3 linked regions of the Homo sapiens genome follow. The protein of the gene in region 3 interacts with the protein of the main gene of each other region in a biochemical or structural test. Each region holds a gene or a part of one and is shown on either strand. Other genes may lie near its edges.

Region 1 (3,657 bases), on a different chromosome or scaffold from region 3:
ACAGTAGAGAAGGGGGATAACTGAAGGAATTTCTTAAAGAAATGAGAATGAGCTTAGAGCATCCAGGTTGAGACTGGCCTACTGACAGCAAGAGATATTTCCTTTATCTTTTAAGGGTAAAGAGTATAGGTAAAGATAGATTTGAAGGAATGAGGGATAAGGAAACTGAAGACATTCCCCCCTGACAGGAGATGTAGAATGCCAAATGGTATGTGGAGAAGTTTGGTAGAGAGGGGAGGAATGAAAGACTGGGTCTCAGAGAGGGGAACACATAGTGGTGTAGGGATAAGTGCATGGGAGAATGAAGAGCCTCACATTTTGAATGTGACTGAGGGGGACAGTGATCTGAATTGTGTTCGGAATATTAGTGTCAATATTCCAAATAAGACGCTAGTATAAATTTGCTTATGTTAGTGGAAGCCTAGGTCTCAGGTGGCATCAGAGATGTAATGATCATATTAGTCATTAGGGACAAATTCATAGTTACTGAATACAGCATAGGTTGAAACTCCTGTTGCAGTGGATGCCTGTTCTCCTATTTATTATTATCCTCTTTTCAAATTTGGCTTTTATCTCTACCTTTCGATCCAAAACACTTTAAGAAGACTAACATGCTTCTCAAAGACTGATACCTTAATTGCCAATTCCAGTAGACAATGTTATGTTTTTCTGATCTTTACATTACATAGACTTTGCTAGTCTCTCCCTCAGCTTTCATAAAAACAGGCTCTGGTTGCACTTCAACCTGTCTACTTCTGCTTATTAGTTTTATTTGTTAGATGAGTAACACTGAAATGACATCTAATATCAGATAATTCTACTAAACTTGCTTTCCTGCACCAAGGCCCAAGTGGTGGGATTTAAAAGGTCCCAAACCAAACCTCAAAATTCCCTCTCCCCTCAAATTCTTTTCCTTGTATTATTCATTGTGACCACATGTAGCTACATTATTGGTTCCCTTGAAAGTAGAAACCAAATCTTATCATTTTTGTCTCCTCTTTTGTATTGCTTTTATGTAATTAGCAATACATACTTAAAGCCAAATATCATTAAAGTTGACTTTCTGAACCATTTGCCAAATAATTATGCACAATTGGTTTCTCTTTCCCATAACACATTTTGAGAATAAAAGCCTCAATATTTATAATGCAAAATATAATACAAGTCTTTAAGATAAATTCTGTAATCAGAATGATAAATGTACTATATGCAGGTAGTGAAAAATATAATCAAGAAAAAATAAAGTTCTAAAGAAAAGTAATGAATACTGAGTAAAAATGTCATCTAAGAACAAAATTTCTGTTTTTCTAACATATTTAATATTAGGTATTCAGGTACTTCTCTAGAGCAAGCAGCAAAATGAACTTTTAAATCTATGAAGGATGTCTAAGAGGTAATCTCTAAGTATAATCCTTATAATCCCTATTAGAAGAAATAAAGTTACTTATTCATGGACTCTTCCTTTTGCATGTTATGATATAAATGACAACCCTGAGGACATACCCTTTCAGTATTTCTGCAGCAGAAACTGCTCAGGTTTTCCTATGCTTCTGTGACTGTACTTTCCAGAGTGCAACATAAAACAGTGGAACAGATAACATTATTAGCAGCCAGGGCACCTTCCTACTTGATTATATAAATTTACCAGGGTCATATTCATATTTTAAAAGACAGAAAACAGAATAACATGTCCCAAGTTACTCTCCTTCTTGTCACTGAGTGTGATACACACATAAACTCAAAATTCGGCAAAGTGATGTGATACTGTGGCATCTTATAAGAGAGAGTACCTGGTCTTTGGACATAATACCCAGCAGAAAGTTTCAAAAACCCGTGGTATTTCCTGAGAAATAGGAGTGTCTTTGTTACATTAATGAGGCAACATGGGCCCCTAGGTAGCTTCAGGATGGGGGCTAATCACTAGAAAGACCAACTATATGTTTAGAGGAATAAACTGGTCAGGCCAACCTTCCATGAAAGGAGGAGGACTTGAGATCAAGTTCAGCCATGTAGCTAATGATTTAATCAATCATGCCCATGTGATGAAACCTCATAAAAACTTTCTTCATCGATACTCAGTGGAGCATCCTTGGTGAACAAAAACTGATGTGCTGGGAAGGTGATGTGCCCACATTTCACAAGGATGGGCATGGAAGTTCTGCATCCTTCCCTTGCCCCAGACCTTGCCATATGTGTCTACTTCCTGTTTGGCTGTTCCTGAGTTGTATCCCACATTTCACAAGGATGGCATGGAAGTTCTGCATCCTTCCCTTGCCCCAGACCTTGCCATATGTGTCTACTTCTTGTTTGGCTGTTCCTGAGTTGTATCCCTTATAATAAAACTGTAATTGCAAGTAGAGCACTTTCAGTGAGTTATGTGAGTCATTCTAGTGAACTATCAGCCTTGAGGGGATTATGGGAAGTCTTGAATTTGTAGTCCGCAGGGCAGAAGTGTGAGTAGCCTGGGGACCCCATTTACAGCTGGTGTCCAAATTAATGGCATTCTTAGTGGGGACCTTGTCCTTTAATTTGTGGGATCTGATGCCAACCCTGGGCAGCTAGTGCCAGAACTAAACGGAAGTGGGGGACACCCAGCTGATGCTACAGAATTAGTGTTGGAACGCAGACACCAAAGGCAAAAGTGACAAAATAAAAAAATAAACTGGACTTTATCAAAATTTAAAACTTGTATTTCCAAGGACACCATCAAGAAAGTGAAAAGACAACCCAAGAAAAAGGAAAATATTTGCAAATCATACATACAATAAGTGACTTGTATCTAGAATATATTAAGAACACTTACAACTTAATAATAAAATGATAAATAACCCAAGTAAAAATAGGCAAAAGATGTGAATATTACTCCAAAGACACACAAATGGGTAAAGAATCTGAAAAGGTGTTTTTCCAAAGAAGATTATCAAATGGCCAGTAAACACATAAAAAGATGACGAACATCATTAGTCATCAGGGAAATGCAAATCAAAACCACAATAAGATACCACTTCACATCCACTAGGACAGCTATAATCAAAACAATAATATTAAGTGTTGGTGAGGATTTAGAGAAAATGAAACGCTCATATACTGCTGGTGGGAATGTAAAATCATACAGCCACTTTGGAAAACAGTCTGGCAGTTTCTCAAAAGGTTAAATATAGTTAGCATATGACCGAGGAATTCTACCACACACCTAAGAAAAATGAATACATGTATCTAAACCAAAAGTTGTATCCAGATGTTTTTATCAACATTACTCATAACGGTCAAAAAGGAGAAGCAACCCAAATGTCCATCAACTGATGAAGGGATGAAAAAAATATGGTATATCCATACAATGGACTATTATTAGACAATAAAAAGGGATGAAGTAGTGATACATGACACAATGTAAACAAACCTTGAAAACATTATGCCAAGTCAAAGAAGCCAGTCACAAAAGGCCACATATTGTATTACAATTCCATTTATATGAATTTTCCAGAGTAGGTAAATTCATAGAAATAAAAAGTACATTAGTCTAAGGTTGTCAGAGGCTGTCGGAGTGGGGGAACACTGGGAAGTGACTGCTAATGGGTAGGGGATTTCTTTTTGGGTGATGAAAATGTTCAGAAATTAGTGGTGATGACTGCACAACTCCGTGAATATACTAGAACC
Region 2 (3,657 bases), on a different chromosome or scaffold from region 3:
TGCACACGCTGTGCTCTGTGCTGGAAAGCACTTCCCCTTGATCTACGTGGAGTAATCCTAGTGACTTTTGAGTCAGCACAAGGCCACTTCCTCTATGAAACCTTCCCTGGAGATGCTTTCCTTTGTCCTCCACAGAATTCTGATGGCCTTTTGCTAGAGCACCTGGATACTTTTACCACACGAATTATTACCATGTCTACATCCCCCCCTCCACACTGAGAACTCCTTGTTGGCAAGGGCCAAGAATCACTCATCCTTGTGTGCCCAGGTCCTACAGTGCCCGGCACACAGTAGGCATTTAATAAGTATTACTGGATGGATGACTGAATGTTTCCTAAAAAACTATTCTGTAAGCCTAGAAAAATGCCTCAAGCTATCTTGTTTTTAAGGAAACATTAAGAGTCAAGTCATTAAATGTGTTCTATAACGACCATGTCACTGATGTTTTGTACAGTCAAACGACACCCCATGGTACAGGAGTGCTCCAAACCAAGCAGACGTGGCTGAACGTGGCGAGAGTCATGAATAACACTGTGCTTTCCAAGGGAGTGTTTCCAGGGTAAGCAGAAGCTGGACTATGTCAAACTCTATACTAATGTTTTGACAGGGTCCATTCAACTAACACAGCTCAAAGGTACATTTATGTGTTTATGTGGTTAGCCAGTCAGCTGCCAGTTTTCTGCTTTGGAGAATCTTACCAGTTCTGCAGCTGATCCAAGCAAGCATTGGGCGGCCCCCCAATACAGGCGCTCTGCTGTCTCCGCTTCCACTCCACTAGTTCATCATTAATCAGGGCATTCTGGGTAAGTTCAGTGACATTCAGCAACTCTATTATTTTGTGAACTACTTCCTAAAGGCAATAGAAGAAACAAAGTGAAATAAATTCATTTTTAATCACTGAATTTTAAAATATTTTTTAAAAGAAAAGCAAATATCATTTCATTCTCAACTGGGGCTCTAAGCCAGGTGGCTATAATTTTTCCTCTCTTCTAAACTTTGAGTCCATTATTTACAGTGTATAACAAAAGTGGCATGCTATTCTGGAAAGTAAATAACTACCTTTCTCTTATTGTCAAGCATTAAATACATCTTCTTGAGTAACAGCTGTTCTTGTTTCTGATCACTCTTTGCCACACCATTGGTCTCGTGTTCTATAAATTGAGAGACAGCCAGTAAATATATAAAGAAGACAAAACCAACAAAAGCCAAGATTCATATAAATTTAGGATAAATATGACACAAATGCTGCCTAGTGACAGGTCAAAGTTTGGCTTTCTTCGATCTTTAATGAACATGAAAAAAAGTCCTAAGTATAACAACTAGACACACTGAAACAAAATACTTGTTTTCAAAAATTAGCCGGGCGCAGTGGCAGACGCCTGTAGTCCCAGCTACTCGGGAGGCTGAGGCAGGAGAACAGCATGAACCCGGGAGGCGGAGCTTGGAGTGAGCCGAGATCTCGCCACTGCACTCTAGCCTGGGCGACAGAGCGAGACTCCGTCTCCAAAAAAAAACAAAAAAAACAAAAAAAAAACAAAAAAAACTTGTTTTCAGTGACCCATGTAAATCAGACATAGTAGTATCTGCCACTTAAGACACTGTCAGGTAATTACCTAAATAAATGTAAATAACATTAATAATAATGTTATTATTATTATAAAAATAAATGTAAATAATAAAATGTTTTATCTGAACAGAATTCAGATAAAAAATGTATACAAAGCATAGCTGTAGCTTTCAAAGAGAAGTAGATGAGTAGGAAGTGGTAGTTGAAGTTGCTGTCTCTTATACTTTCTACCCAAATCATACTGATAATCTCTGCCTATGAACCATGGTATACCCCAGATGATGAATAGAGTAACAGCAGTACCCTACGTGTCCTACACAATGTACATTCTTGAGATCTTTTCTGTTGCTACTCTCATTAAAAACACGCAACAGTAAGAAAATACAGTAAAACTGCTTTAAAACATGAGAAAAATACTGAGCTTATCTGCTGTGTATACACGTGGCCCTGCAACGTTTGAAGAAACCTGAGATATTAGGGCAGGGGAACTCCACATATCTATCGCTCTGTGTCAGTCAGTGGGCTAGGCGCAATAAATATGGTGAGTAACACATAACCAGTGGTTATCAAGTAGGGGTCACTGACCCCTAGGGGACTTTTGGCAATCTCTGGAGACAGTTTTGGTTGTCACTAGTGAGGGCTCCTGGGTAGTGCTACTGGCATCTGGTGGGTAAAAGTCGGGGATGCTGTTAAACACGCTACAATGCCAGGACAGCCCCAACAACAAATTAGCCCGAAATGTCAATAATATTGGATGTTGAGAAGCCCTGGCCTGGGTTATCAAGGAAGAATTCAGAGTCATAAAATACTCGGCAAATAGAAAGGAGTAATCATCTTCGTTATCTAGTGTGAACAGAAAAAATTGCAGCCAACGGGCACCACTTCAGTTGTGAACCCTTACCTCTGTTCTGCAAGGTTTTGCATTTGAAGTCATATTCATCTTGTAAATCTTCCAGGCTCTTGATTTCATGCTCTATACACTACAAACAAAGATGTAAACATGTTTTCTACTGATCAGCAACTTCCAAAGACTTTAGGCAACAGAGTATTGCTTCTATGGAACCCAGAGAAACACGAAAACAATTCCATCTCCCCCAAAAAGAGATCTGACTTGGACAGTTCTAATCATATACATGAAATAATTTCGGTTTCATTAATAAGTATGTCATAACATTTTTAAAAAAGCAAACGTACAATAATTCTCAAACTGATTTGTATGTCCTTAACCTGGTTCCAGCGCCTAAATTTTGATTCTTCCTCATCATTTTTGAGACTACCTCTGAGATATGATTTAAGAACTCCACTGTGAAGCCCACAGCAGGCGGGGAAAAAGCTCACAGAAAATTTCCTCATTCCTTCCAAGTAAGAAAAGTGACCATACATCCCTGCTTTACCGGGATAGACCTGGTTTCATACTTGCTGTAATTATAAACAGTGCCCTCTTGGCGGCTCAAATGCATCTCCATCTGGACAATAAATTGTATGTTCATTCTACAAATAAGCCTCATTTGTTTGGGATTTGGTCACATTTCCACATATTCTTCTCTGGATTTCCATGGCTATTTCTGGACTGGGCTCACTCGGTTTCTACTTTAATGAAATGTTTCCCTAGGAGACCGCAAGATGAAGTTGCTCCAAAGAATGTGGAGTTTGGAAAGATGCTGTCTGAAGCATGTAAGTCAAGGCCATACTGCTATTACCCAGAGATCCACAGAGGACCAAACCCCTAAGCTGGAAGGCCTTTTCCACAAACACAGGCCTCTGTGAAAAAGAACTCCTCAAACCCTCCCCACACCAGCCCTAACAGTGGAGAGGAGTAAATGCGCACCATCGAGGACGCCAGAGCAGCCCTCTGCTTCCATAAATTGACTTGGAAGTTGTATCCTAAAATTGCTGTGGATGTCTTAATCAGAAATGTATCCAAATTTCTTTCAATAAAATGTATTTTTGTTCCTCTTCCAAGTCTTAGGATAAAACAGATGACTGGGAAGGATGGGCCATGTTTATCCTGGGGCACTGTGATTTGAGAGGTGTGGACATAAAGGCCCATTTAGAGCAGCAACATCTCATTTACTGGGTACTGGGCAAAG
Region 3 (3,657 bases):
GTTACAGTTTTAAATTATTTTTTGCTAAATCAAATTCTGAAATTTAGATATTGTATCTTTTTCTAAAGGCAAACAGTAAAGAAAAAAAGAAAAATCAGCCAGCTGAGGGGCCATATTTAAAAATCCAGAGCAGTGCTGTCCAGTAAAACTTCTATAATAAAGGAAATATTTGTGTCTGTACTTCCAATTCCAATACACTATCCAGTAGCAACAGGTGCCTAACTGAGCACTTGAAATGTGGCTGTGATTGAGAAACTGACTTTTTATTTTAATTTTAACTGATTTAAATTGCCACATGTGGCTATTTACTGTATTAAACAGAGAATTAAACATGGAAAGGAAGGGAAGAATAAAATTTTACATTTGTATCATGCCTGACAGCTTCCAAAGTACTCATTTAAACATTTATCTTAATTTTCCTAACAACCTTGTAAGTTATGAATATGTACTATTATCCCTATTTTATTGCTAGAAAATTGAACCTGAGGGAGGTCAAAATGAAAGGTCCTTTGGCTACTAAGGAACAGTTTATTCTTAAACTCAGGACATTTAAAAGAACATTAAAACAAAATAAAGAAAGAGATTTCTTATTAAATTTGTGCAAGTTCTAGTTTTATACTCACCTGCCTCATTTTAGCATGAATATAGAAGCAAGAATAACCCAGTTGAGAAATCTTCTTGGCTAGCAATTCAACTCGCTGAGAGGAGTTACAGAAAATGATCGACTGGTTTATCTGAAGCTGAGCACAGAAAAAAATAAGTATGAGAAAAATAAAAAAAACCTTCATTTGGTTTGCCAAATCTTGAAAACACGAACCAGCAAAAAAGAAACATTAACATGGTCTAAAACTTAGAATCTCATGATATGAGAGAGATGGTAAATTGTAAAAATTGTAAATAATAGATGGAAGATAATAATATCTAAGATTTACCGTATTAGAGTATATTTCTTAAGGGCCACATAACTGTCAACAAGAGTAATACAATTGATTATCTGATTCAAAGTAGTTATGTTTTATGTGTTTCCATTTAAAAATATTTTATTTTATTTTTTTTTTGTGAAATGGAGTTTCACTCTTGTTGTCCAGGCTGGAGTGCAATGGTGCAATCTCAGCTCACTGCAACAGCTGCCTCCTGGGTTCAAACAATTCTCCAGCCTCAGCCTCTTGAGTAGCTGGGATTACAGGCACCCACCACAATGCCTGGCTAACTTTTGTATTTTTAGTAGAGACAGGGTTTCAGCCTGTTGGTCAGGCTGGTCTTGAACTCTTGACCTCAGGTGATCTGCCCACTTCGGCTTCCCAAAGTGCTGGGATTACAGGTATGAGCTACTGTGCCCAGCCAAGAATACCTTCTTTAATATACTCACAACCAATGCCACCAGCATTGGGCAGCACTTCAGCACCATGTGTAGGGGCCAATTAAAACTGTGAAATCAGCAACAAAAACTTGAAAAACATGGCAGACTGTGAAAAGGACCCTTGTTCACAGTATGAGAGCTAAACAAGAGGACAGAGATTGCTTTCTTCGACCTCAGCTGGGAATGTGCATGTCAGGTGACTTAAACTCTTTGCCACACTGTACACGTCCACAAATGACTGCTGAACTACCTTGAGTATTAATTCCGGAGTTACAAATAAATTCTAGTGACTAAGCAAATTCACAAATACAGAATATGTGAATAATGAGGATTAACCCTAGTTAAGGTCAAAGTATTTCAGAAACTATTCAAAAGTGTATCTGTGACTTGGTTAATCATTTAGTATCAACTTTAGGTCAACAACTAAACCTGCCTTTTAGGAAACACTATGAATTATTTTTTAATCTTTTTTTTTTTCTTCCCAAGACGGAGTCTTGCTCTGTCGCCCAGAGCTGGAGTGCAATGGTGCAATCTCAGCTCACTGCAGCCTCCGCCTCCTGGGTTCAAGCAATTCTCCTGCCTCGGCCTCCCAAGTAGCTGGGATTATGGGCACACGCCACCATGCCCAATTTTTTTGTATTTTGTAGTAGAGATGGGGTTTCACCATGTTGGCCAGGCTGGTCTCAAACTCCTGACCTCGTGATCTGCCTGCCTCAGCCTCCAAAGTGCTGGGAGGCATGAGCCACCGTGCCAAGCCAGAAACACTACGAACTTTTATACAGTGAAGACGGTGGGAAAATTGATGAAATCATCTGTTTTACTGGGACTCGAGAGATAATATTCAACAGCAGAAGCCTACTTCTTACCCTGGAGAAAAGTGTGTTGAGGCAGTGTACTTTTTGGCGCTCAGTTACATATGCGTAGTACTGGGTTACTCCCTTCAGAGTTAGTTCCTCCATCAGGTTAATCTCATAGGGTTTCTGCAAATGGGAATTCTGGGGGGGGAGCGGGAAAAAGATGAGTCGTCGTCTTAAATGAAAGCAGAGTTCATCTCAAATTCAAAATATACCCTATACGTTTCTGTCCGATAAACTCTTGCTGTAAGGGACGCAACTCTCTTCAAAACAAAATATATGATCTGTCATTACAGAATTTCCCCCCTGCCACCCTGAGACAAAATCTTGCTCTGTCACCCAGGCTGGAGTGTAGTGGCACGATCTCTGCTCCCTGCAACCTCCACCTCCCGGGTTCAAGTGATTCTCCTGCCTCGGCCTCCCGAGTAGCTGGGAATGCAGGCATGCACTGCCATAACAGACTAATTTTTGTATTTTTAGTAGAGACGGGGTTTCACCATGTTGCCCAGGCTGGTCTCGAACTCCTGACCTTGTGATCTGCCCGCCTCGGCCCCCCAAAGTGCTGGGATTACAGGCATGAGCCACCATGCCCGACCCGATAGAAATAAATTAAGATATAAGATCTCAAAAATGCAGCTAAGTTACTACAGGTTGAGTATTCCTTACCCAAAATGCTTAGGAACAGAAGTGTTTCAGGTTTTAAATTTTTTCTAATTTTGGAATATGTGCATTACACTTAGTGACTGAGCATCCTTAATTTGAAAATTCAAAATCCAAAGAACATTTCCTTTTAGCATCATGTTCGTGGCTCAAAAGGTTTCAAATTCTGCAGTATTTTGGATTTCAGTTTAGGATACTCAAGCTCTGTTTTGTATATAGAATAATACCGGAATCAATTCAGCTAGCACCAATGGCTATGTCATCATGACACCAAAAACTAAGTGAAAGATGAGGAATTTAATTAAGTTACTATTACAACCTTCTTAAAAAGTCAGTTAATTTACGTAAAACAAATCTTTAATTGATCAACTGAAGAAAGAGCCAAAGGCTTGAAATAATTAGCATAAAGTATATTCACAGATATGAAGATGTAATTACAAATAAAAGCATACTCAAAGGTCACAGGATGGCACTGATTCCAAGTACAGATTTATACTCACCATGAACTTCTGTACACTAAGAGGGAAAGTAGCGGAATATAGTAAAATCTGCCTGTTTTTAGGTAGCGTGAGAATAATATCCTCCATTATCTGCACAAAATCCTGTGACAGCAACTTATCTGCCTGCAGTAGAAAGAAAAGACAATTTTAAAAACAATAAAATAATGTCTAAGGTCTTGGTTAATACATGGTCAAAGAATAAGGCATCATCCAACAAAAGCATCCATGAAATGTTCCTGGTGGAAAACAATAAATTCTCTCCAACACTGCAGAGAGTCAAATA

Evidence for each region.
Region 1: the proteins of DDX6 (region 3) and RO60 form a complex in vitro, tested with the Homo sapiens proteins (one study listed by BioGRID).
Region 2: the proteins of DDX6 (region 3) and STAT1 form a complex in vitro, tested with the Homo sapiens proteins (one large-scale study listed by BioGRID).

Annotation. Positions count from the first base shown.
Region 1 is NC_000001.11:193,062,577-193,066,233, reverse strand, and holds part of RO60 (RNA-binding protein RO60), read right to left. Parts: intron 1-3,657. UniProt on the Homo sapiens protein: RNA-binding protein that binds to misfolded non-coding RNAs, pre-5S rRNA, and several small cytoplasmic RNA molecules known as Y RNAs.
Region 2 is NC_000002.12:190,997,158-191,000,814, forward strand, and holds part of STAT1 (signal transducer and activator of transcription 1-alpha/beta), read right to left. Parts: intron 2,548-3,657; coding exon 2,469-2,547; intron 1,152-2,468; coding exon 1,060-1,151; intron 851-1,059; coding exon 699-850; intron 1-698. UniProt on the Homo sapiens protein: Signal transducer and transcription activator that mediates cellular responses to interferons (IFNs), cytokine KITLG/SCF and other cytokines and other growth factors.
Region 3 is NC_000011.10:118,756,548-118,760,204, forward strand, and holds part of DDX6 (probable ATP-dependent RNA helicase DDX6), read right to left. Parts: intron 3,498-3,657; coding exon 3,375-3,497; intron 2,356-3,374; coding exon 2,227-2,355; intron 741-2,226; coding exon 624-740; intron 1-623.